5 separate regions of the Homo sapiens genome follow, and regions 2, 3, 4 and 5 are each linked to region 1. The links come from fine-mapping of genetic effects on gene expression. A gene starts in region 1. Each other region holds a variant in brackets. All regions are shown on one strand. Distances are from middle to middle. Region 1 holds the start of CSF2RB (colony stimulating factor 2 receptor subunit beta). Region 2 overlaps NCF4 (neutrophil cytosolic factor 4). Region 3 holds the start of NCF4-AS1 (NCF4 antisense RNA 1). Region 4 overlaps LOC124900478 (a long non-coding RNA gene). Region 5 holds the start of LOC124900478 (a long non-coding RNA gene).

Region 1 (5,129 bases):
TTCTGTGCTATTTTGGCCAAAAAAGCATAACCCAGTTCTAATCATCAGACAGAGCCAAATCGAGGGACATTATTCAAAACAACCAACCTGCAGTCTTCGAGATGTCGAGGAAAAAACAAGGCATCTGTTTCAAACTGGAGGCCCGAAAGACATGGCAACTAAGAGCCATGCATTTAGAGAGAATGCAAAGTCCCGGATGGATTTTCTTGTTACAAAACCATTATTGAGAAGCTTAGCGAAACTCAAAGGGGGTTTCCACATGAAGGGTATGTGAGAGTTCTTTGTATCATTCCTTTAACGCTCTGTATTTTGAAATAGTTTCAGAATAAAAATGGAAATGGAAAAAAATGCAATGTTAACATATACGAGTTACTACTTTCAACAAGTTATCTTCCTTTTCATGCCTCAATTTCTTCATCTGTAAGGTGAAGACAGTAACAGCTACATAAAGGTTATTGGGAAGAGATGGAGAAGCCCCCAGCCGAAGGTCTGCTCACAGCGTAAATGCTCAAGCCCTGGTCATTATGAGTACTACGTTCTTGCCAACATTTTCTTGGGTTTCTTAGTCTCTAAAAGATCGTCAATTGCAAGACACGGTATTTTACATACCACTGAAGGAAAAAACAAACAAACAAACGAAAACATTCAATGAATTCCTGACGGTGTGATTCTTCTCGCTTAGAACTTTTAATACTTATTGAGAGAACTCTGTTAGACTCATTCAAATGTAGATTTTTATCCCCTGCTGCTCTATGATGACTTTTAAAAGGAAAGGGTCAGTCAAGTGAATTGGCTGAGGTGTTCCTAAAGCTCCTTCACATTTTGGGTCTGGTGTCCGGAGTGATTTTGACTCAGAGTCTCGGGTTCTTCGTTTCTCCACCAGACAGCATCCTCTGTGCTCCTGAGGGCATCCAGGCCCGCAGCCTCCCAGTCCCACAGAGGACCTCAGCAAAGACAGGCAGAGTGGGGACACCTGGGAGAAAAGAGAGCCCGGGACGTCACTTTAATTCCATCCTCTCCAGCCCTGGAGAAGCCCCTGCAGGGTTTTTCCATGCCAGGCAGGGACCTCACACTGACCGGAGTGCCTGAGAGAACCACACATGCCTTCCTCTACCCTGGGCTTTCTCTGCTAGGGTGAGGCCCTGCCAGCTCTTCCTGGCCAACCCTGCCCTTCCTGGTAGGAGGAAAGCAAAGAACAACAATCAGGCCAGAATTCCAGTGGCTTCGAGGCAGGTTCCTGCCCCTCCATTTCCTCCATTCCCCTCATTCTTGCCCTCCATTCCCCTCATTCCTGCCTGCTGCCCTTTCTCCTGGGAGGCAGCCCCATGTAGGAGAAATATGACTGCGTTTTGTTGTGTCTTGGCACTGTGATTCATCTTGTCTTTATTCAAACTTTTCATATTTGGTTCACCGTGAATAGTTTCTGCATCAGTTGGGATTTTTTTAAACCATATTGCATTAAAATATTACTTACAACAATTACTGAATTTTTAAATGCCTGTTTAAATTTTGAGCACGAGAGACTGCCTCACTCACCTGACCTTAATTCTGCTGGCCCTGCTGTGCTCAGGGAGCCACTCATTCATTCATTCATTCATTCATTCATTCATTCATTCATCTATTCATTTGCACACAGTCAAAGGTGCAATTTCTCCTCTGTACCAGGCCATGTGCTAGGTATTTGGGAGGGAAGTGCAAGCCGGACACAAGCCAGCACTGAAGATAGTGTCAGAAGAAAGACAGCCATGAACACACATGACCATATGACACATGGTGGGGTGGGGCGGCAGGGCAAAGAGGACATCGGGGAAATCAACATGCCACCAGCTACCACTTGTAGGGGGTTCTCCTGTGGCCAGCTCTGAGCTAAGGTCTTCCTGCACAGAATCTCACTGGATTCCCTCAACAGTCCTTCCAGGTTTGTAGATGCTTCTGCAAAAGTAACAGACAGATGGATGTCCCGAGGCTTGGGGAAGTAACACGCAGATGATTTGCACAAGGACACGCTTTAAGAAGCAGTGGACTTGGAAGTCCAACACAGATCTGTCTGGCTCTGGGCTCAAACCAGCTATGGTTATTGCAGCCACTTCCACCTGCATCCCCATCAAGCAGTCAGGGAAGGCTGCATGGAGGAGGCCCTGCGTCAGCTGAGGCTTGAAGGAGGCCTAGGAGTTTATAGGAAGGTAAATTGGAGTAGGAGGCTTTCTGGAAGTAAGAAAAGTCACGTGCACTATTAGCAAAGTAGGCCTGGGCCGGCACTGCTTCCTCTTTCTGCTTCTCTGTTTCCTGATGACATCAACATAAATAGGAAACGTGGGAGGCTCACTCTGCCTAGAGGCTCCAGAAGAAGACTGGTCTCTCCCACCACACAGAGGTATGGCCCGGCGTCCAGGAGCAGGGCTGAGGGGTGGGGTCAGAGCAGGGGGGAATGTGGGGAGTCCAGGATGAAAAAGGACAGGGGGAGCCTGGGGGGCGTCCTGTGGGTAGCTGTGCCCTGGGGACTTGGAGGAGTTAGGGCTTGGCCTCTTAGGATGACCTGAGCCCAGACTCCTAGGGCGGCCAGTGGATGGGGAGGCAGCCAGGGGTGCCAAGCTGCTTGGGTGTTGTAGGAGAGCTCTGGGGAGGACTCAGCCTCGCTAGCGGGATCTGGTTGGTCCTGGTGGGAAGGACGCCTAGTGGGGTGAAGAGAGCTCAGGCCTGGGAGTCAGGCACCTATAGTCTGTCTTCGCTTTGTCACTAAGATGCTGGTGGTAGTGAGAGCACCCCCTGTCCACCCTGGGCTTCTGTCTCCTCATCTGTGGAATGGGGAGCATGGATAGTCCCTGACATCTTGGTTTAGAAAGAGAGAGAACGCATGCTCGTGTGTTTGCCCGTGTGTGCATTTGTGTGTGTGCCTGTGTGTGTATGTGCATGTGCGGATGTCTGGGGATGCAGGAGTGCAGAGAGACTAAGAGGCAGAGGGTGAAACCTGGAAGCTTGCTGCGCTGAGGCCCAGAGCTGGGTGCGGTGTGGCTTGAGAAGCTCACTTTGAACTTGAGAAAGAGCCCAGCACTTTGCCCAGAGACATACCAGGCACTATCCAGCAATCTCTCTCTCTCTCTCTCTCTCTCTCAGTCTCTCTCTCTGTCTGTCTGTCTTTTTAGTTATGACACTCTGCCCTGCTGATTTGGGTTGCTGATTTGGGTTGGGGCCCAGGTGTGTGTGTTCTGTACCCAAGTATGCTGGCTGGGTGGGTGGGTATCTGGGGTGCCTGCTTCAGGGTGTGTGCAGGTGTGTGTACTGGCCCTGAGAATGAAAGGGCAGGTGTTTCACTGGGACCTTGTCAGACAGGTGCTAGCGACAAGCTGCATATGTGCAATTTTTAGTCTTCAAAAACCCTGCTGTTATATTTTTGTACAGCCCAATTCTAATTTTTTTCTATCATCTTTCCTGCTTTGTAATCATTTTATAATGAGTAAACATTTCCTATTAGCTTTTGGTCACTCTTTTTTTCATCCAGCAGTTTTATTTATATTGTTCCAGTATACAGATATACCAACACCACAGGATAATTCATGAGTTGTATAAGGAATGTATTTAATGCTAAACAAGCAACTACACAGAAACCTACCTTCATGAAAATTAGAATAATCTAGAATTATGTAGCACAAGAGACAAAGTCCCCAGCAATTTCTTTTCCCTAGTTCCATAGCTTATTCTTTTCACCACATGTATTCTTCCAGAACATTTTCTAAGCATGATACAAGCATATAGTTTTTCTTTTCCTGTTTGTTTTTTGTTTTGTTTTGTTTTGTTTTTGTGACAGAGTTTTACTCTTGTCGCCCAGGCTGGAATGCAGTGGTGCAATCTTGGCTCACTGCAACCTCTGCCTCCCGGGTTCAGGTGATTCTCCTGCCTCAGCCTCCTGAGTAGCCGGGATTACAGGCATGAGCCACCACACGTGGCTAATTTTTGTATTTTTAGTAGAGACAGGGTTTCACCATATTGGCCAGGCTGGTCTCGAACTCCTGACCTCAGATGATCCGCCTGTCTCAGCCTCCCAAAATGCTGGGATTACAGGCTTGAGCCACTGTGCCAGGATGGTAGTTTTTCTTTTTACAGAAATGGGATTATTTTATTTATATATATATATATATATTCCTAATTTTTTCACTTAATATTGTATTTTGGAATATTTCCAAATTTCTACAATAATACATACAGATTTAACTCGTTAAGTAACCCTAAGAAATATGTGGCATTTATTAGGATGGGTACACCACAATTCATCTAATCTCACGTTGATCGACACCTAGATTGTTTCTAATTTTTCCACATCTGTGAAAGTGTTTCTGTAGCCTAAATTACTAAATGCAGAATTGCTGTGCAGAGGTTGTGCGTTAGAAATTATAATAGGTATTGTCAAATCAGCCTCAAAGTAGCTGAGCTAAGCTGACGTCCCCAAGGTAGTGCATAAAGGGTCCAATTTACCTTTAGAGAAATTATCAATCTTCTAATTTTGTCCAATATTATGTATGGAAATTCTCAATGTCGCGTGATTTTTTTCTTTCCCTGATTATGGGTGAAGTTGTACATTTTCTATATGTGGATTGGCCTTTTGGATTTCATTTATGATGAATGTGGAGAAATTTTTGTTCATCTCCTGTTGAATTCTCTTTTACATCTTAACTTTTGGAGTGACTCATTTATTACGTGTATTAATAATCCATTTATATATGTTGAAAATATATTCTCCCAGGTTATGACTTATCTTTTTCTTTACCATGTTTAAGATGTCTTATGTCATATAAAAATGTTTTCATTGTTAAGTCAAACCTGTCATTACTTTTTACTTTATGGTTTCTGATTTTGGTGTCTTGTAAACCTCTAAGATCACAGGTGTCTTGTAAACCTCTTTTTACTTTATGGTTTCTGGTTTGGTGTCTTGAAACCTCTAAGATTACAGAAAGAGTTTTAATAATTTTACTATTTTGGTTTTGACTTTGAGATTTTTAGCCCACCTAGAATTTAGAGAAGTGAGTAATGTGTAAAGTAACTTTTAAAAATAATTACCATCTAATTGTCTTAACATTGCTAATTATGAGTGTGTGATTTCTCCTCTCTTCAATGATTTGAAGTGCCCCTATTAC
Region 2 (5,104 bases), 38 kb before region 1:
AGAGACTGAGGATGGTCTCAGAAGGCCTCAGGGAAGAGATGCTATCTGAGGATAGCCCTGGAGATCCAGGCAGGTTGGGGAGCCTGCGGGAACAAAGCCTTTGGGGAGGCAGGTGTTCGGTGGCAGCAGAACATTCTTGGAGCTCATGCTTTGGTTCTGACCCTGAAAAATGGGTTGCTTAGGGCAAGTAAGTTAACCTACTGAGTTTAGTTTCTTGGTCTGTAATGGGTGTCTCAGCAGGGGCACTATTGACATTGGGGCCAGATGGTCCCTTGTGGGGTTGTCCTGAGCATTGCAGGCTGTTCAGCAATATCCCTGGCCTCTCCACTAGATGCCAGCAGCACTGCTAAATTGCACCAATCACATGGCTCTCCAGATATTTGCTCCTGAGGGGTGAAATCGCAACCACTTGTGTAATATGGGACAACAGTACATACCTTGCCCACAGCAGTAAAAGCTGCTGATGAAGAGTGTGAACTCAGAGTCAGCCTGTTTGGGCCATTTCCTAGCTCTGTTTTTCACTAGCTTTGTGGACCTTTGGAAACTTGCTCAAACTTGCGGTTTCCTTTTCTGTAAATGTTTCTTCATCGGCTTCCTGGAAAGGGTAAAGGAGGTGGTAGATGGCCAGGGCTCGCCCCAGAGCCTGGGTGTGCGGCGCCTGGCCAGGTACTAGGGTCATTAGGAGACTTAAATGAAACTTCAAAGCCAGGGACTTTCCCAGTCACTGCTTTGTCCCTGTGTGGCCCACAGAAGGGCTGTGTTCTGACTCAGTGAGTGGAGGTGGGAAGTGGCTGTGTTGGGCCTTGGCCTGGGACCAGCCTTTTGTATTAGGTCCTGTCTTCAGACTTAGTGCTCCTGTGGGGAGTGTTGAAGGAGGTTCTGGGACAGGCCCAGAGGCAGGGTCAGCCCCCAGGGGTCCCAGGACCTTTAAGAGTTGGGTTGGGTCCCTAGCGTCCAGGCCCTGGAGAGGAGCTAGTAGTGACCACTGGTTTAGCCAGTTTAGCAGTTTCCATTTTACCCTAATCATAGATCTCCATCTCAGGAACTCAGGGCTCTTACAGAGGCCTGAGGAGTATCTCTGGGCCACTTTCCAGAAATAGAAAACATGTATTGCCTTCCTGTTTTCCGGAAAGTCCTACTTATCAGTATGCTGGCTAACTTCTGGCCTCAGGTTGAAGGTGGGGGCAGAGGGGCAGGGAGGGGACCACTTTGAGCCTTGGTTAATATGTTTGTAAAATGGCATGTAAATAATCCATGTTCCATAGGGTCGTTGTGAAGATGAACAGAACACGTGCCCAAAGCCCAGGCCATGGCCGGGTCTGGGTCTGATTTCTGGCTACTTGGTCTAGAGTAGAGGCACAGTTGTATCTGATGAATGAATGAGTGAGTGAGCGGGATCAGCAGCAGGCCCTTCCTCACCCCTCATCCTCTTCCTCCCCTGTTCTATTTTCCTCTGTAACACCTGCTGCCATCTGACTCACTGGATAGGTCATTGTTCACAGCGCGCACAGCGTGTCATTCCCCATCATACTGGAAACTCCGTGGGGGCAAGGACTTATTATTATTTTTTTATTATTATTTTTTCTTTGAGACAGAGTTTCACTCTGGTTGCCCAGGCTGGAGTGCAATGGCGTGATCTCGGCTCACTGCAACCTCCACCTGCCAGGTTCAAGTGATTCTCCTGCTTCCGCCTCCCGAGTAGCTGGGATTACAGGCCCGCACCAACACGCTTGGCTAATTTGTATATGTTTAGTAGAGACAGGGTTTCACCAAGTTGGCCAGGCTGGTCTCGAACTACTGATCTCAAGTGATTCACCAGCTTCGGCCTCCCAAAGTGCTAGGATTACAGGTGTGAGCTACTGCGCCCGGCCCAAGGACTTTTATCTATTTTGAGAGCCCAGAGCCTGTCACGTGGCTGGTTCTCAAGAAG[C/A]CTTTGTTGAATGAATAAGTGAATGAGTGAGATAAAAGCAGCTTTCTATATAAATCCAGATTCTGGCATATTGTAAAACCCAAATATAAGCCTTCTTAGAAGTGACCAGCTCAGCGAACTTCCTCGCTTTCCCTCCTCCCTCTACAGAAGAAGACCCGGACCTCATCTGCCTTTCCCCATCACTAGAACGGGGCTGAGGGCTCTGAGGCGTGGCTCTGCTGCCTCTCCTCTCACCAGCATGGCATCCCTTCTCTTCCTCTGCAGGGCACTGTCCGGGGAGCCACGGGCATCTTCCCTCTCTCCTTCGTGAAGATCCTCAAAGACTTCCCTGAGGAGGACGACCCCACCAACTGGCTGCGTTGCTACTACTACGAAGACACCATCAGCACCATCAAGTCTGTGGCCTGGGAGGGAGGGGCCTGTCCAGCCTTCCTGCCATCCCTACGACCACTGCCCCTCACATCACCTTCTCATGGGTCCCTCTCCCACTCCAAAGCCCCCAGTGGCTCCCAGATGAGCCACAATGCTGTAACAAGCCATCAACGTCCAGGGTGGCCTGGCCAGCCTCATTCCCCTTTCCCCCACCCCACACCCCACTTCCAGCCTGATGCCTCCTTACTCCAGCCTGTCACCCCCTTAGGGACATCGCGGTGGAGGAAGATCTCAGCAGCACTCCCCTATTGAAAGACCTGCTGGAGCTCACAAGGTGAGGGGCTGGGAATGGGGCTGGGGAGTTAGATACTCTGGAGAAGAGAGCGCAGGGAGAAATGTTAAGCACTAGTATTAAGGTGCTGGGGTTTTGCGTGTACTTTGTCTTCTCTTTTTATCCGCAGCCCAGCCCTGCAGGTTAGGCAGCATCTCCCCACTTTAGAGATGAGCGGGGAAGCTGCAGAGAGGTTAGGGGAACTGGTTGAGCTCACGCAGGTTGTGGGTTTAGATCCGGATCTGCAGCTGGAGCTAAAGTCTCTCTGGCTAAAAGCCTTGGACTTGAACCATCCACTCTCAGGGACTCACTACCCCCCCAGGTCCAGGACATTGCTGGACAGTTATTTTACAGAATGGTAACCGCATTGCTACATTTCTGACTATAAAACTTGTACCAACTCATTATATATTAAAAAAGAAATGTCAGTAACCATGTCAGAAAGATACAAAGAAGTGAAATCACCTCATATTTTTACTCCCCTCGTTATGTGACGTACACTCAGATTTCTTCAGTACTTACACCCCACACACACATGCACACACAAAAGTCACTTTGGCTGCACAAAACCTTTCAGTGGCTACATCATTAACATGGCCATGCGCTTTTGCTGGCCTCTTAGGATTTCTTCTGCTTTTTTACTACTCTAAACAACATTGTACAGACCATCTTAGTTAACCTATTTGATGACTTATCTGATCATTTCCTTTGAATGATTTTCAAGAAGTGGATTTGGGGATTAAAGCATTTGCAAGTCTCATAGGCTTCTGGCCCACACTGTGAAATTACTGGTAGAAAGCTCAGATCAATTTCTACGTACACCAGCCAAGTAGAAGGATGCGCATCTTCCCGCACCCAGGCCAGACAGTTCCTGTCCTTACAAGGTTCTCCTCAATAGCCTCACACAGGTGTCTCTCTGAGGCTTTATACAGCCCCACTCTGTGCCCAGTCAAACCCACTCTTCTTCACAACTCTTAATCCTTTAGCACATTTATACACGAGACATTTCAGGCTGTGCCACTAATTTCCGTGAAAGTCTCTTCTCCTTCTCCTTTTTTTTTTTGAGATGGAGTCTCACTCTGTTGCCCAGGCTGGAGTGCAGTGGTGCAATCTCAGCTCACTGCAACCTCTGCCTACTGTGTTCAAGTGATTCTCCTGCCTCAGCCTCCTGAGTGGCTGGGATCACAGGTGCATACTACCTCGCCCAGCTAATTTTTGTATTTTTAGTAGAGACAGGGTTTCACCATGTTGGCCAGGCTGGTCTTGAACTCCTAACCTCAGGTAATCTGCCTGCCTCGGCCTCCCAAAATGCTGGAATTATAAGCGTGAGCCACCGCACCCAGCCTCTTCTCCCTTTTAGGCCTCGATATCCCCATCTGTACAATGGGAGGTTAGATTACTTGGATGACACGGGCTTGTATCAGGCTCTGACTTTTTCTTACTCCTGGCTTCAGGACATAAAACCCTTTTCACCCCCTCTCCCTACCCCTACCTTACGCTTAGGCCCTTTGATTATCCCTGACTTTTCCCATGCAGGCGGGAGTTCCAGAGAGAGGACATAGCTCTGAATTACCGGGACGCTGAGGGGGATCTGGTTCGGCTGCTGTCGGATGAGGACGTAGCGCTCATGGTGCGGCAGGCTCGTGGCCTCCCCTCCCAGAAGCGCCTCTTCCCCTGGAAGCTGCACATCACGCAGAAGGACAACTACAGGGTCTACAACACGATGCCATGAGCTGACGGTGTCCCTGGAGCAGTGAGGGGACACCAGCAAAAACCTTCAGCTCTCAGAGGAGATTGGGACCAGGAAAACCTGGGAGGATGGGCAGACTTCCTGTCTTTGAGGCTAATGGACCCGTGGGGCTTGTAATCTGTCTCTTTCTACTATTTACATCTGATTTAAATAAACCATTCCATCTGAAAGGGGCAGGCTGCGGGAAAGAGTGTCTTTCATGGGGAGTAAAATACCATTTAATGAGCATCCACAGGGCGTCATTTATATCTGGCAGGGGCCCTGGCTCTGAGACCCCTGTCCTGCCACCCCATTTCCTTGCTCTGTCCCTGTGTTGGGGGGAAACCCGAGGGTCCCCAAGCCATACCCTTTCTCCCTCCCACTGCTCCCCTTTTCCTGGGATTGGCCACCTGCCCCACAGAAGTGATCTGCTCTGGGTGCCCTCTGGGGTTCCACCAATGCCAAGTCCTCGGCTGTGTGATGAGGGTCAGAAGCTCTCCTCTGCCTTCCTGTCTCTGCTGCTCTGTGGAGGAGGAAGGCAGGTCTCGGGGTTGGTTGTCTCCACTGTAAGTAGACACAGGGGGAGGACTCTAGTCTCATCCAGGAGGAGGGGGACACAAAGCAACGGGATCTCCTTCTCTGAGCTGAATCTCCTTCTATCCTAATCTACCAAAAATTAAACAGGTGTGACTCCCACAATGGTGGTGTGAGGAGCTTGGTGGACCCTCTCCCCAGGGAAACA
Region 3 (5,000 bases), 46 kb before region 1:
TGTTTTTTCTGTCTCTGTTTCTGTCTCTCTCTGTCTCAGCATATGACCCCGCTCCTTCTCATCCAGCCCCACCAAGGAACTTGAAGCTCCCCCTAGGAGTCTTGCCTACTCTAAGCCAGCCTCCCCTCTCAGGCTCCATCATTTTCCCTCCTCTCTCTTTTGGGGCTCTCTCCTGACAATCTACCCCTCCTTTTCCTTGTATATTCATCTTCCTCTTGATATACCAACTCCCTCTGCTAAGCGTCTCCACAGCCTCAACCCTCTTCTGTCTTTAAACAATCCTGAGCCATGAAACAGCATTCTTACAAGCCTCCCTGAGCCTCCGTGCCCCCAGGGCCCCCAAAGTTCTCTTTCTTCTTCCTTTGGCATCAAATTCACGCACTGTCTCACCTTGGCATGGCCATCCTCTCCTTAACTCCTCAGCTTGGTTTAGCTCTGACTACTCCACTGAAATTCCTCTCGGTGAGGTGGGCCATGACCCATCAATTCTGGCTTCCATGGCCAGTGCCAAGCCTCATCTTCACACCCCCACTCCTTCCTCTGTTAAGCTTTCTCCAACCTCCTGAGGCACCAGTGTCTCCCAATCCCCTTCCTAGCTTACTAGAGACTCCTTCAGCTTCTCTGTTACAGAATCAACCTTCTCTGCTGCTCCTTGGAAGGTGGGGATCCTCTGAGCAGACATCCTCTCTCCCCTGCCTTGTCTTCTCATTCCAAACACTCACCCTGGCAAACTGACCCATGTCTGGGACTTAATTGTCACGTTTTTGCTCCTAACTCCCAATGTCTAGCTCTAGCCCAGACCCTCCTACCGCCGCCGCCATCACCTCTGTCCATCTCCTGGACACCAGGAGCCAGGCAGGTTTCAGACTTGCTTCCTCGTAGGGGTTCTCTTGGTGAATGGTTCCACCAGTGCGCCCACATGAAGGCACCTGGAGGGGACATTTGTCTCTTGGTAGCCCGTCATATTTCCTTTTCCTCCAGAACATCTGCCTTGAGCTTGAGGAATTGTTCATTCATCCACTTAACAAATGCTCATTCATCTGGGCATGATTCTAGACCCATGGTTCTTAACTTTGGTGGTATGTGGACGTGCCTTGAGAGATGGAAAGAATCCTGGTTCCTGAGTCCTGCCCCCGGAGATTCTGATTTAATTGCTCTGGGGCAAGTGCTACACAGTGAGATATTTACAAGCTCCTTGGGTAGCTTGAATGTGCAGCCGGTGTTGCCACTGTCCTGGGTGATGGGGGTACAGCTGTGAGCCAAGCAGGTGAAAATCCTGCTCTCTTAGAACTAAGAGTCGTGTGTGTGTGTGTGTGTGTGTGTGTGTGTGTGCGCTTGGATGAACAGGCAGTAAATAAAAAAGTAAGACAAGAAAAATATCAGCTGGTGATAGCACAACTGAGAGGATGAAAGTTGGATGGTGCCAGAGTGGCCACTTCAGTGCTGTGAAAAGATAACAGGGAAGAATGCTGAGCCATCGGGAAGGGGCTCTGGCCAGGGTTCCTGGCCTGTAGGGGCAGCCCTGAGCCCCGGGGCCATGTTGGGCCAGGCTCCTAGGACAGCTCTTTGTCTCTTCTCAGCCAAAGTCTACGTGGGTGTGAAACAGGAGATCGCCGAGATGCGGATACCTGCCCTCAACGCCTACATGAAGGTACCAGTGGGCCTTGCCACCTTGGCACGTGGAAGGGCATGCAGTATTGGTGGGGGAGCCCACGTACCATCCCTGGGTATGGCTTTGGGAACTGGGGCTGGCTCTCTGGCTCTGATGGCCCCATCTTCAATCCCTAAAGGCCTGGTCTGGGGAGTAAAACAGGATGCGTCCTTAGGGTTCCAGAGATAGGAGCAGGAGCAACGGAGAAGGTAAAAGAGCCACACTAGGAATTGACAAGTCTTCATTTAATGCTCCAAGCCCCACAGGTGAATGTCTATGCCAGGAGTTAAAATACAAAGGTGAATTCCATCCAGTGTCTGCCCCCAAGGTACCCACTGTCC[T/C]ATGGGAATGCCAACAGGTGGATCATAAGATCACACGGAGACATATGTGTGCCTCCATCATGGGGGTGTGGCCAAGCAGGCCGCAGGTTGCTCATATAGCATCTTTGTGCAAACTAGAGTAGGCCTCCTCTGGGACAACTCACTCCCTTACGTGAACATGGGCTGGATTTTAGCTACACTCATGGGTCTTGGCTGGGGGCCCTTGTGTATTCTCCGACTTGCAAACTCTGCATCTCTATGAGATGGGAGCGTAGAGGAAGGAGCATCTTAAAGGCAGAGGCCAAGGTGGTCAGGAAAGGACTTCCACCAGCCACAGCCATCCAGGAAAGGGGCAGTGTTCCTCATGAGGTGGCAGTGAGTGCACCGTCGCTAGAGACCTGATAGTGACCTCAGGAAGCTGGCAAGCGAAGCCCTCCTCCCAGCCCAGCGGCATCCTCACAGCTGGAGAGCGCTGGGCTAGGATCCTTTAGTCTTGACTCTGACACTGACTGGCTGGGTGATTTGGGGTGAGTTGCCCATCCTCTCTAGGCCTTGGTTTTCACACTTGTGAAATGGGGCAGTGCCCTCTAGTATCACAGGAGTGAAGTTGGGATCTGTCGAGAACAGGATGAGAAAGTGCTTTGTAAACTGTGAACCTGCTTCCAGAATGTGAGAGATCTTGACTCCTGATGGAGGGAAGGAGCAGATGGAGGGCAGAGGAGGTGGGAGGAAGGAGGAGAGAGCAGGTAGCTGCAGGAATCCTGGGCTCTGAGCAGGGAAGAGGGAGGGAGGGGAGCTGGGTGGGCTCCAGCTGCTCCTTCAGGGTGGCTGAGGCTCCACCCTTCTCCCCCTGGGCTAGAATAGGGGAGTGGGCTGTGAAGGGAGGGAGGGAGGGAAGGAGGAAGAGAAGGCAGGAGGCGAGGCTGGGGAACTGGGGCTCCTCATTCCACACCTGGTCTTAGCAACCAGCAGCCCAGAGGATCCATCTCTGCCTCTTTGTGTCCAATTGGGTTCCTGGAAGCCAGAGATCATTCAGGGCAGGAATCTCTGCCATGGCCACCCCATCCTGTGCTTGCATACCCTCAGAGATGGGGAGCTCACTACCACTCCGCCCTGACCCAGGCTGCCTGTCCCATTGTTGGGCAGCTATGAGAAAAGCCCAACTCTCTGTAAGTCCTACCCACTGGTCTCACCCCGCCCTCATGAAGAATGTGAATCACATGATAATGACAACTGCCTGGAACTGCGTGAAGAGCTTTGACTGGCAACCAGGAGACTCTTGATACACGTTTATTGATAAATGAATAATCTTATTTAATCCCCTCAATAACTTGTGAGTTAAGTGTGACAGAGCAGTTAGGTAGGTGGGATGAGATTTGAATTCACATCTCTGTGACTCCAGGGTTTGAGCTCTTACCCACTGTGCCTCGTTGTAATGAAAATCACAGTAACAATGATGACATCTAACTTTGATGGGCACCTGGTATATGCCTGGTGTTGTTCTAAGGATTCTGCATGTATTTACTCATTTAATTCTCACACAATCCCACGAGGGAGAGGCTATTATTGTCCCCATTTTATTAATGACCATCTGGAGCCAGGTTTGCCCAAAGCCACCCAGCTGGTGACAGGCAGAGCTGGGATTCGATCCCAGGAGCCCCTGGCTCCTTAAACACCTCCCAGGCTGTCCCCATATGACAGCCTTTTCCGGGCTCTGCATCCCCAGTTCCTCTCGGACAAAGTTCCCCGACCCCACCTCATCCTGCTGCCCCCATGGGATCCTCTGCAGGGCTCTGGGTGCCTCTGGAGCCTCAGCACCCAAAGCCAACCCTCAGTGTCCCCAGACCTGTGCGCTTGGAGTTTGGTGAGATGACCCCGCCAGGCTCTGGGTGCTCGCGTCCTCACAGCTTCAAAGTCTTTGCATCGTGGTGGGTGTAACCAGCTTGGATGAAACAAGGACACTAGGGCTCAAGTCCGGGCCCTGTCACTTAGCTCGGCTCCTCTGGGCCAGGTACTTTCCCTCTCCAAGCATCAGTTTCCTCAACTATGATATGAGATAAAGTATCAGGAAGCATTTTGTAGGCTATAATGCCACCAACTGTTGTTAATTTGGGTTATTTTGGGAGCCCCCCACCCCCGCCAACTGTTGTCTCACCTTAAGCTTTGGGTAGCCTTTAGTGGCAGATGGCTCTGGGTGCCCCAGCTCTGTCCCTTGCTAGGCTTTGTGGCCTTGAGCATATCCCTTCACCTCTCTGATCCTAACTCAAGGGATGTCATGAGATGGAGCAAGGGCGCGCATGTGATACCCACCTGGTAAAGTCACCGCCGGGTCATGTTAGTTGTCATCACCATTACTGCTGTTTCTGGAGAACTTTAAGTCTTTTCCAAATGGACTCTTCTCAAGCCCCTGGTCCCTCTCCTGACCTTGGACCCAGGAGCAGAGCTTGTGAAGTGTTACCTTCAGCATGCTGAGTTTTCTTATTCTTTTAAACAACGCATTTCTGTTATCAGGCATCATGCATTAGTAAAGAGAGGAGGGCTGATGTCAGGGCTCGGGGACGGGACATCTAGGCTGGGGTGTCCAGATCTTTCTGCTGACTACCCCACCGGTTCTGCTGTCTCACCCACACAGAGCCTGCTCAGCCTGCCGGTCTGGGTGCTGATGGATGAGGACGTCCGGATCTTCTTTTACCAGTCGCCCTATGACTCAGAGCAGGTGCCCCAGGCACTCCGCCGGCTCCGCCCGCGCACCCGGAAAGTGTAAGTGACCAGCCCCTGGGCTTCCACATGGCCAGAGCCCTGGGTCCCTGCTGGAAAAGCATCTCTTTTCCCTGAAAGGAGAGAAGGAAAATACAGATCAGCCATATCCCTGGACACTCCAGGATGATTTGATTTATTAGATGGGTTTAGAAAGTCATGTTCAGGCTTGGAGGGACAGAGGGTGTGTGCCTTTCAATGTGATAATAAGGATTGGAAGACGAGGACTGGGATATTGACTCCAGAGAGTTTGGTGCCACAGCAACTACTGG
Region 4 (5,129 bases), 33 kb after region 1:
CATGAAATTTTTATTGGTAGCATGCAATGTTATTTGATAGCATTTCTTTCCAAATTGAAGTTAATCTTCTTAAACCCTGCTGCTGCTTTGTCAACTAAGTTGATTTAATATTCTTCATCCTTTGTTGTTATTTCAACATGTTCACAGCATCTTTACCAGGAGTAGATTCTATCTCAAGAAACCACTTTCTTTGCTCCTCTGTAAGAAGCAGCTCCTCACCTGTTCAAGTTTTATCATGAGATTGCAGCAATTCAGTCACATCTTCAGGCCGTACTTCTAATTCTAGTTTTCTTTCTATTTCCACTACATCTGCAGTTCCTTCCTCCCCTGAAGTCTTGAATCCCTCAAAGTCATCCATAAGAGTTGTAATTGACATCTTCCAAACCCTGTTAGTGTTGATGTTTTGACCTCCTTCCATGAATCGCAAATGTTCTGAATGATATCTAGAGTAGTGAACCCTTTCTAGAAGGTTTTCAATTTACTTGGCTCAGATCCATCAGAAGAATCACTGTCTATGACAGCTATAGCCTTAGGAAATGTGTTTCTTAAATAACAAGTCTTGAAAGCAGGAATTTCTCCTTGATCCAAGGGCTGCATAATAACTGTTATGTTCACAGACATGAAAACGACATTAATCTTGTGTATCTTCATCAGAGCTCTTGGGTGACCAGGTACATTGGCAATAAGCAGTAATATATTGAAAGAAATATATTTTCTGAGCATTATATCTCAACAGTGAACTTAAAATATTCCTAAACCATGCTGTAAACAGATGTGCTGTCAGCCTTTACTGATCCATTTCCAAAACACAGGCAGAGTAGATTTAGCATAATTTTTGTATTAGTCTGTTTTCATGCTGCTGATAAAGACATACCCAAGTCTGGGCAATTTACAAAAGAAAGAGGTTTAATTGGACTTGCAGTTCCACGTGGCTGGGGAAGCCTCACAATCATGGTGGAGGGCAAGGAGGAGCAAGTCCCATCTTACATGGTTGGCAGCAGGCAAAGAGAGAATGAGGAAGGCGCAAAAGCAGAAACCCCTGATAAAACCATCAGATCTTGTGAGACTTATTCACTACCAAGAGAATAGTATGGAGGAAACTGTCCCCATGATTCGATTATCTCCCACTAGGTCCCTCCCACAACACATGGGAATTATGGGAGTATAATTCAAGATGAGATTTGGGTCGGGACACAGAGCCAAACTGTATCTTTTTTTTTTTTTTTTTTTGAGATGGAGTCTCACTCTGTCACCCAGTGCCACGATCTCGGCTCACTGCAAGCTCCACCTCCTGGGTTCACCCCATTCTCCTGCCTCAGCCTCCCGAGTAGCTGGGACTACAGGTGCCCACCACCACGCCCAGCTAATGTTTTGTATTTTTAATAGAGACGGGGTTTCACCGTGTTAGCCAGGATGGTCTCGATCTCCTGAACTCGTGATCCACCTGCCTCGGCCTCCCAAAGTGCTGGGATGACAGGCGTGAGCCAACGCACCTGGCCAACTGTATCAATACTTAAGGGGCTTAGGGTTCTTTGGAATTGTAAATGAGCATTGGTTTCAATTTAAAGTTACCAGTGGCATTAGCCCCTAACGAGAGATTCTGCCTGTGCTTTGAAGCATTGCAGCTTCAAATAAAAGGCATCTTCTTCCGATAAAAAGGCTATTTTGTCTACATTGAGTATCTGTGTTTAGTGCAGCCACCTTCACTAATCATCCTAGCTGGATATTCTGGATAACTTTGTGTAGCTTCTCCATCAGCACTTGCTGCTTCACTTTGTTCTTTTATGTTACAGAGATGGTTTCTTTCCTTAAACCTCACGAACTAATCTCTGCTAGCTTCCAACTTTTCTTTTGCAGCTTCCTCACCTCTCTCAGCCTTCAGGGAATTGAGGAGCATTAAGGCCTTGCTCTGGATGAAGCTTTGGCTTAAGGGAATGTTGTGGCTGGCTTGGTCTTCTATCCAAACCACTAAAATTTCTCCATATCAGCAATAAGACTGTTTTCTTTTCTCATTCATGAGTTCACTGAAGTAGTATTTTTAAGTTCCTGCAAGAATTTTTCTTTTGTATTCATAACTTGACTATTTTCCCAAGAGGCCAAGTTTTCAGGCTATCTAGGCTTTCAGTGAAGCTTAATCATTTCTAGCTTTTGATTTAAAGTAAGAGATGTGTGCAACTCTTCCTTTTACTTGAAAGCTTAGAGGCCATTGTAGGGTTATTAACTGGCCTAATTTATTTATTGTTGGGTCTCTGGGATGAGGGAGGCTAGATTAGGTGTCTAGTTAGGGCCTGCTTCCTCATAGATGAAGGCTTCTCACTGTAGGGTGAGAGATAAGAGAACGGCCCGT[C/A]GGTGGAGCAGTCAGAGCACACAGAACATTTGTTGATTAAGTTTACTGTCTTCTATGACAGATCATGGCATCCCAAAACAATTGCAGTAATAACATCACAGATCTCAGACCACCATGACAGAGACAATAATCATGAAAAAGTTTGAAATATTGCAAGAATTACCAAAAGGTGACACAGAGATGAAACTGCCCCTATAAACTTTATGAAATGAATCAGGGAAGAAGGAAGGGGGAGAAATAAAAGTCACCCACGCTTGCAGCACATTTGGCCTCCATCATGAGGTCGGCCTGCTCTCCAGCCTGCGTCCTCACAGCTGTCTGGTGCCTGTCGTACTAAAATCACATAGACCCTGTTACAAGATCACGGTTCCCCTTAACTGCTCCGTAGATAACAACGTGAACATTATAAAATGTTTAGTTTTCCCTGTGAGATAGTCCTTCAGGTCCCATACACTGATGAAACTACCGACCCAGCTGGTCTGAAGGACCCCACAATGGGCTGACTCACCAAAGAATGCAGTTTCCATATCGTGATGATTTCATCCCCCCTTCCCCCCGACCAATCAACAACCCCAATTTTCCAATTATGGAGGGAGTCTCTCACCCTCTATAATCCCCTTAAAAACCCCAGACCAAAGCTCCTTGGTGAGATAAACGGGAGGGCCTCCTCCCATCTCGTCACTCAGCACTCTGCAATCATTAAACTTTCTCTGCTGCAAACCCTGCTGTCACTATGTAATGGGTCTGTTACTGCACAGTGGGCATATGAACCCATTGGTCCTATAACAGAGGCATGAAGTGAGCACATGCTGTTGGAAAAATGGTGATGGTAGACTTGCCAAAAGCATGGCTGCCACAAACATTCAATTTGTATAAAACACGGTATCTGCAAAGCACAATAAAACAAAGTGCAATAAGATGAGGTGTGGCTGTATATTCAAATTAAAATGAGATGTAGTTCTTTTACTCACCACATTGGTAAATATTACTGGGAAAATAACTGATAATATCCAGAGTGGGAAGTGTGTGGGGGTACAGGTACTCTTGTACTATAAAATACAAGTCTATTTTTTTAATAGACTTTACTTTTTAGAACAGTTTTAAGTTCTCAGCAAAATTGAGTGGGCGGTTCAGAATGCCCATATAATCCCTGCCCCACACATGCACAGCCTCCCCAACGATCAACAGCCCACACTACAATCGTCTTAGCCCACTGGGCAGCTATAACCAAAACAACATAGACCAGTGGCTTATAAACAAAAGAATTTATTTCTCACAGTTCTGGAGGCTGGGAAGTTCAAGATCAACATGCTGGCAGATTTGGTGTCTGGTTAGGGCCTGCTTCCTCATAGGTGAGGCTTTCTCACTGTAACCTCATATGGCCGAAGGGGCGAGGGAGTCTCTCAGGTCTCTTTTATAAAAGCACTGATCTCATTCCTAAGGCCTCTGCCCTCATGAACTAATCACCTCCAAAAGGCCCATCTCCTAATCCATCACCTTGTGGGGTAGGATTTCAACACAGATTATTTTGTAATTCATAGACGTGATGATTGGGTGTTCCTATGCATGTGTGAGATGTGCCACCTTCAAACCTTGTTACTGTAAGAGTTAAAGAAAGAGGAAAGAAGCCAGAAAAGGGGCTCAACAGTCAAAAACAGGTTTATTTTGGAGAATAAACCTGAAAGGGGCTTCTGGCCAATTTCAGTCAGGAGGATTCTCTATTGCAACTATCAACAGCCTGCACTACAATCGTCTTAGCCCATTGGGCTGCTATAACCAAAATAACATAGACCGGTGGCTCATAAACAACAAGAGTATATATTGGTTTTAGAGTGAGAGAGCTTTATCACAGGCTTGGAATGTTTCTGTGTGGGGGAGAAGTTTATGGTGGGGTTGGAATGTCTCTGGCAGAAGGGGAGGTTATGTTGGGGCTGACATCTCTCTGCCGGGGGGGAAGTTATCTCCGGGCTGGCTTGTCTCTGGTCAGGGAGGGATTTATCTTATGGTTGAAATGTTTCTGGTCGGAGATGTCATTTGTGGCTTATGGTCATGCTGACCTTAGTCATTAGGCTGATGACCTTTGGATTTAGGCAATTTTTGATCAAGGGGAACTTTAGAATGGCAGTGCTTGTCCAAGATGGTGATGCTTCTGCTCTGTCAGCTACCATGTGGGCATATTACCTATCTGACATGAACTTAGAAAAAAAGAAACTAAAAAAAAAAGCAAAAAGGATTTCAACGCACTAATTTGAAGGGATATAAACATTCAATCCATGGCAACAGTGGTACATTTGTTACAACTGATAAACCTATGTTGATACATAATTATCACTCAAGGGCTATAGTTTACATGAATACATCTTGACAGGTATCCAGCATTATAACATGGCACAGAATAGTTTCACTGCCCTAAAAACCCTCTGTGCTCCACTTTTTCTTCCCTCCCTCACTCTACCCTCTGGCAACCACTGATCCTTTTTCTCTCTCCATAGTTTTGCCTTTTCCAGAATGTCATGCAGTTGAAATCATACAGTATGTAGCCTATTCAGAGTCACTGTTTTCATTTAGTAATATCCAGCTAAGTTTCCTCCGTGTCCTTTCATGGCTGATAGCTCATTTCTTTTCAGTGCTACATAGTATTCCATTGTCTGGGTGTATCATAATTTATTTATCCATTCTCCTACTGAAGGACATCTTTTTTGCTTCCAAGTTTTGTCGGTTAAGGTTGCTATAAGCATCTATGTGCAGGTTTTTATGTGGATATGTTTTCAACTCATGGGAG
Region 5 (5,129 bases), 41 kb after region 1:
GAGAGCTCGGGTGGGAGAGGTGGCAGCCCACATGCAGAGGAGGAGCCTGGGAGAGCATGGAGCCCCCTCCCAAACACGTCCACACGGCCTGTTCTGCCACTCCCCATCTGTGGCCAGGGCTGGCGCCTCACCTCCAGGGCCTCAGTTTCCCCATCTGTGAACTGGGCGTCGTGGCCTGGCCCTGCCCACCTCGCAGTGAGGAGGAACTAAGATAGGTCATGTGGGGCAACTGTGTTAAATTGTGACAAAATAAGAGAAGATTGTCACCATTGTTACCAGCACCATCCTCAACGACATCAGTGTAGAACGTGCTCCCCAGAAACCCCAGATCAGACAGTAGTGCCTGGCAGGTGCCTGGCTGAGCAGGAGCTCCCGGGAGGGCCTCCGTCCTCCTCTGTCCTCTGTCTACTCCCACCCCGAGGCTGACCTGACACATCCCTCTCTACACCACCATCCCACGCCAGGCAGAGGGGACACCGTAGCCCCTACCCGTGGCCCCTGCACCCAACGTCACAGACTCATTCACCCGGCGAATGAGGGTCACGTTGACGAGCCGCTGGGCATCCTGGGTGTCTGCCCACCCGCAGGTGATGTGGCTGGTATAGTCACTGTAGCAGCGCAGGGTCTGCAGCAGGACGGTTTCTGACAAGAGGGGCAGGAAGGGGTCACCTCTCTCCCCTGCAGGGTCCCTTATCACCACCACCCCCAGCTGATCTGGGGCAGAGGTGCCCTGGGTTGGGAAGGGGGTCTGCCAGGGTGAGCTTCTGCCTGTGGACCCTCCTCTCCTGACAGAAGCACCGTGCAATCCCTGCAGAATGGAGACACGCAGCAGCGACAGGCCCTGCCCCCCAGACCCCCAGGCATCAACCCAGCCTTGAGATGAACCCCAAGCCAGGACGCTGCTGGAGCAAAGGTCTGGAGGTGGAACCACTGAGGTGCAGCGAGTGTCTGCTGGGGAAGGAGGAGAAGGGAAACGGTCAGAGCAGCCACCCTGGAGCCTGGGGGCCTGGAGTGCCGTGCTGAGAAATATGGGCTGGGAACCCAGACACACTCAGCTGGACTTTCCAGGACAGGATGAGCAGGAATGTGCAGGAGGAGGGAAGTGAAGGAAGCCCAGGGAAGGCCGGGGAAGAGACGAAGCAAGGGGAGCAGGAGGAGGGTGGGTGGGCAGGGTCCTGGGGGTATGGTGCGGGCCTCCTCCAGGGTGCAGCAGTGAGGAGGGGGCAGGGAAGGGGTGGGAGCCACGGAACTCACCTTCTGCCCCTGCCAGGCTAAGTCCCCAGCACAGGGCCAGCAGGGCCATGAGGAGCAGCTCCCAGGCCAGCACCATTTTCCTGGTCAGCTCTGGACAGGCAGGTGCTGGCACAGGTGGATGCTGGCCATGGGCTGGGGTGGGGTCTTCCATGCCCTGGAGTCCTGTGTTCCTGCCCAGCTGGGAGCCAGGCCAAGCTGATCTCACCAGGTCTTGTTATTCCTCCATCCATGAATTGCCATCCTACCCCAGGTCTTGAGAAAGGAGATGTGGGCCAGGATAAGGCCCATCCACCCCTCTCGTCTTCCCAGGGATATGGCCGATGAGGAGGGAGAAGGCCATGTTGGGGGTACGGGGAGCCTGGTCCTGCGCCTTCTCCACCTAGTGTGGATCTCCTCCTCTGCCACTCTCACCCTTCCCCGCAGTGCTGGTGTAGATTCTGTGTGTTTGTATTGGGTGCTACTGGGTTGATGCCCAAGTGGGCTGCGTTAAGCTCTTCAAGTGATTTTGGCAGATAAGCTTTGTGGATCCACCCACCACAGATGGAGCCTGTCTCCTCCCAGGTCTTGAGGATGCACAGACTCCCTTTGGGCCACCTCACTCAACACCAAACACTCCACCATCCTTCCTCACCTGCCCCAAGCTGTTACTGCCCATCCCTTCTTCTCTGCAGGAGCCTGAGGCATTTCTTAGTTTCTTGCCCTTTGTGATGTCAGAAGAAAAGACAGAGGTCTTCTTTTCTTCTTTCTCAACACTTCTGAAACCATGAAACACGCAAGCCTCCACCCACTCACACACCCACATACACACCTACACATACCTGCACACACATGCTCAGACAACCCTGATGGGACCTGACCACCCTACGAGGGCGCTGACAAGACCTTGAGGATGCTGGGAACGAGCCAGGAAGGAGGACAGGATAGGAATGGAGTTCCTGAGGAGGCAGCAGGGCTTCTCGGTACAGAAAATGGTGAACTCTCAGTCTTCCTGCCCTGGCCATGCTCAGCTGAACAAAACCACACCAGCTGGTCTCACTTAAATTCAGGATTACCATCGGAGGCGGGGGTTGTGGGGAGGCTCTTAACGCTGCCAGAACCCCAAATGACACTTCCCAGCAGCAAGGAGGAACTCTGCCCTTCCCAAGAAGCTATTTCACACCTCTCCACTTCCGTCACACCTCTACTTCCCCTG[C/T]ACCCCATTCCCATGCCCCACTTCCCCTGCACCCCATTCCCATCCCCCACTTCCCCTGCACCCCATTCCTACACCCCACTTCCACTGGACCCCATTCCCACAGCCCACTTCCCCTGCACCCCATTCCCATGCCCCACTTCCACCTTAAGGACTCACGTATACCCAGGCACTATACAAACACACACACCCACAACCACATGCACAGACGCCAATGCAGGCACCCCTGACTTGCATCAAAGTCAACACCCAAATGGGCCAAATGGCTCCAAGTGGAGGAGGAGGGGCAAAAGACAGGCATGGGCAGAGGGAGAAGAGGCTTCTGCTTCTGGCCATAATGGAGTAACTAGGACCAGGTATAGCCTTCTACTTTAGAAGTATAAAACTGGACAAACGATATTAAAAATCTGTTTTCAGCTGTTAGAAAAGAGGAGTCCTTCTATATGATCGCTCAGAGAGTGAAAACAAACACGGTAGGTCCTATGATCATCCTACCTTTCTTTTCTTTTTCTTTTTTTTTTTTTTTTTCTGAGAGGGAGTTTCGCTCTTGTTGTCCAGGCTGGAGTGCAGCGGCGTGATCTCGGCTCACCGCAACCTCCGCCTCCCGGGTTCAAGTGATTCTCCAGCCTCAGCTTCCCGAGTAACTGGAATTACAGGCACTCGCCACCACACCCAACTAATTTTGTATTTTTAGTTGAGACGGGGGTTTCTTCATGTTGGTCAGGCTAGTCATGAACTCCTGACCTCAGGTGATCCTCCCACCTCGGCCTCCCAAAGTGCTGGAATTACAAGCATAAACCACCGTGCCTACCTTTTTCTACCTTTCTACCACTTTCTTGACTGTGACGTAGGTAAAAGAACTCCAACATGACCATGGCAGTCTTGCTGTGTTGGGCGATAGGGGTCTGAGTCTGAAGAGGCAAAAGAAGCTGGAATTTGGTGTAGAAAACAAGAGAAGAAAGAGCTGCACAGAGAAAGAGACCCAGCAAATCTACACAGAGATCCTCTTGCATGTACTGCTGCACACTAAACCATGCATGTGTGGGGTGGAGCTCCACTAGACTGTGTAAATAGTACACAGAGAGATGTATCTGAACAATTTCCAGAACTCACCAAGGTCTGGGAGATGTTCAAGTTCCAACAAGCCAGAATAGGAATTCTTACTGAACACCTCACACATTCAGTAGAGAACCAAGAAGAAAAACACCTTAGTGCCAGCACTAAACCAGCCCAGGAGAGGGCCATTCTAAAACTGCTCTAGGCCAGCATGGTGGCTCATGCCTGTAATCCCAGCACTTTGAGAGGTCAAGGCGGGTGGATCACTTGAGGTCAGGAGTTCGAGACCAGCCTGGCCAACGTGGTGAAACCCCATCTCTACTAAAAATACAAAAATTAGCTAGGCGTGGTGGCAGGTGCCTCTAATCCCAGCTATTTGGGAGACTGAGGCAGGAGAATTGCATGAATCCAGGAGGCGGAGATTGCAGTAAGCAGAGATTGCACCACTGCGCTCCAGCCTGGGCAACAAAGTAAGACTCCATCTCAATAATAATAATAATAATAATAATAATAATAATAATAATAAAAGTCCTCTAAGGAAGCTTAAAAACAAACCTTAAAAGATCAAACTGATTGATATGGTTTGGATTTTTGTCCCCATCCAAATCTCATGTTGAAATGTAATCCCCGATGTTGGGGGTGGGGCCTGGTGGAGGTGTTTGGATCATGGTTGGGGGATCCCTCGTGAATGGCTTGGGCCATCCCCTTGGGGATGAGTGAGCTCTCACTCTGAGTTCACAGGAGATCTGGTCATTTAAAAGTGTGTGGTACCTACCCCTACGCTGATCTCTCTCTCTCTTTCTCTCGTTCCTGCTTTCATTGTGACGTGCCTGCTCTCCCTTCACCTTCTGCCACAATTGGAAGCTTCCTGAGGCCTCCCCAAAAGCTGAGCAGATGCCAGCACCATGCTTCCTGTACAGCCTGCAGAACTGTGAGCCAATTAAACCTCTTTTCTTTATAAATTACCTGGTCCTGGGTGTTTCTTTATGACAGCATGAAAATGACCTAATACAGAAAATTGGCACTGAGAGTAGGATATTTTCCATATTAGGTCATTCTCATATTGCTGTAAATCAATGAATGCCTTAGACTGGGTAATTTATAAAGAAAAGAGGTTTAATTAGCTTACAGCTCTGCAGGCTGTACAGGAAGCATGGCACCGGCATCTGCTTCGTTTCTTGGGGAGGCCTCAGGAAGCTTACAATCATGGCAGAAGGTGAAGAGAGAAGGCACGTCACACAGTGAAAGCTGGTACAAGTGAGAGAGAGAGAGAGAGAGAGAGAGAGAGAGCACTAGTGCAGAGGCAGCTGCCACACACATTTATTTTAGTTTTTTTTTATGTTTTTATTATTATTTTTGAGACGGAGTCTCGCTCTGTTGCCAGGTTGGAGTGCAGTGGCACGATCTCAGCTCACTGCAACATCCACCTCCCTGGTTCAAGCTATTCTCCTGCCTCAGCCTCCCAAGTAGCTGGGATTACAGGCGCACACCACCACACCTGGCTAATATTTCTATTTTCAGTAGAGACGGGGTTTCACCATGTTGGCCAGGCTGGTCTCAAACTCCTAGCCTCAGATGATCTGCCTGCCTCCGCCTCCCAAAGTGCTGGGATTACAGGCATGAGCCACCA

What was found. PIP is the estimated chance that this variant, and not a neighbour inherited with it, causes the effect.
Region 2: its variant is fine-mapped to the expression of CSF2RB in whole blood (TOPMed, PIP above 0.99).
Region 3: its variant is fine-mapped to the expression of CSF2RB in lymphoblastoid cells (TwinsUK, PIP 0.95).
Region 4: its variant is fine-mapped to the expression of CSF2RB in whole blood (INTERVAL, PIP above 0.99).
Region 5: its variant is fine-mapped to the expression of CSF2RB in whole blood (TOPMed, PIP 0.91).

What each region holds. Positions count from the first base shown.
Region 1 is chr22:36,911,304-36,916,432 of GRCh38, forward strand. It overlaps CSF2RB (colony stimulating factor 2 receptor subunit beta), which reads left to right and starts at 2,325. Exons shown (of 14, transcript NM_000395.3): 1 at 2,325-2,374. RefSeq lists an enhancer at 158-859.
Region 2 is chr22:36,873,459-36,878,562 of GRCh38, forward strand. NCF4 (neutrophil cytosolic factor 4) reads left to right here. Exons shown (of 10, transcript NM_000631.5): 8 at 2,195-2,325; 9 at 2,571-2,636; 10 at 4,170-4,557. The coding sequence ends at 4,365. Among named protein-coding and RNA genes, the nearest start is that of NCF4-AS1, 5.6 kb to the left of the region's middle. The variant C/A (reference allele first, on the strand shown) is at 1,931.
Region 3 is chr22:36,865,812-36,870,811 of GRCh38, forward strand. It overlaps NCF4 (neutrophil cytosolic factor 4), which reads left to right. Exons shown (of 10, transcript NM_000631.5): 4 at 1,581-1,651; 5 at 4,604-4,731. It overlaps NCF4-AS1 (NCF4 antisense RNA 1), which reads right to left and starts at 4,632. Exons shown (of 2, transcript NR_147197.1): 1 at 4,282-4,632. The variant T/C (reference allele first, on the strand shown) is at 1,993.
Region 4 is chr22:36,944,611-36,949,739 of GRCh38, forward strand. LOC124900478 (a long non-coding RNA gene) reads right to left here. Exons shown (of 3, transcript XR_007068091.1): 3 at 3,635-5,129. It also overlaps the pseudogene LOC124905162. Among named protein-coding and RNA genes, the nearest start is that of LL22NC01-81G9.3, 18 kb to the right of the region's middle. The variant C/A (reference allele first, on the strand shown) is at 2,348.
Region 5 is chr22:36,952,394-36,957,522 of GRCh38, forward strand. It overlaps LOC124900478 (a long non-coding RNA gene), which reads right to left and starts at 2,267. Exons shown (of 3, transcript XR_007068091.1): 1 at 1,255-2,267. It also overlaps the pseudogene CSF2RBP1. The variant C/T (reference allele first, on the strand shown) is at 2,447.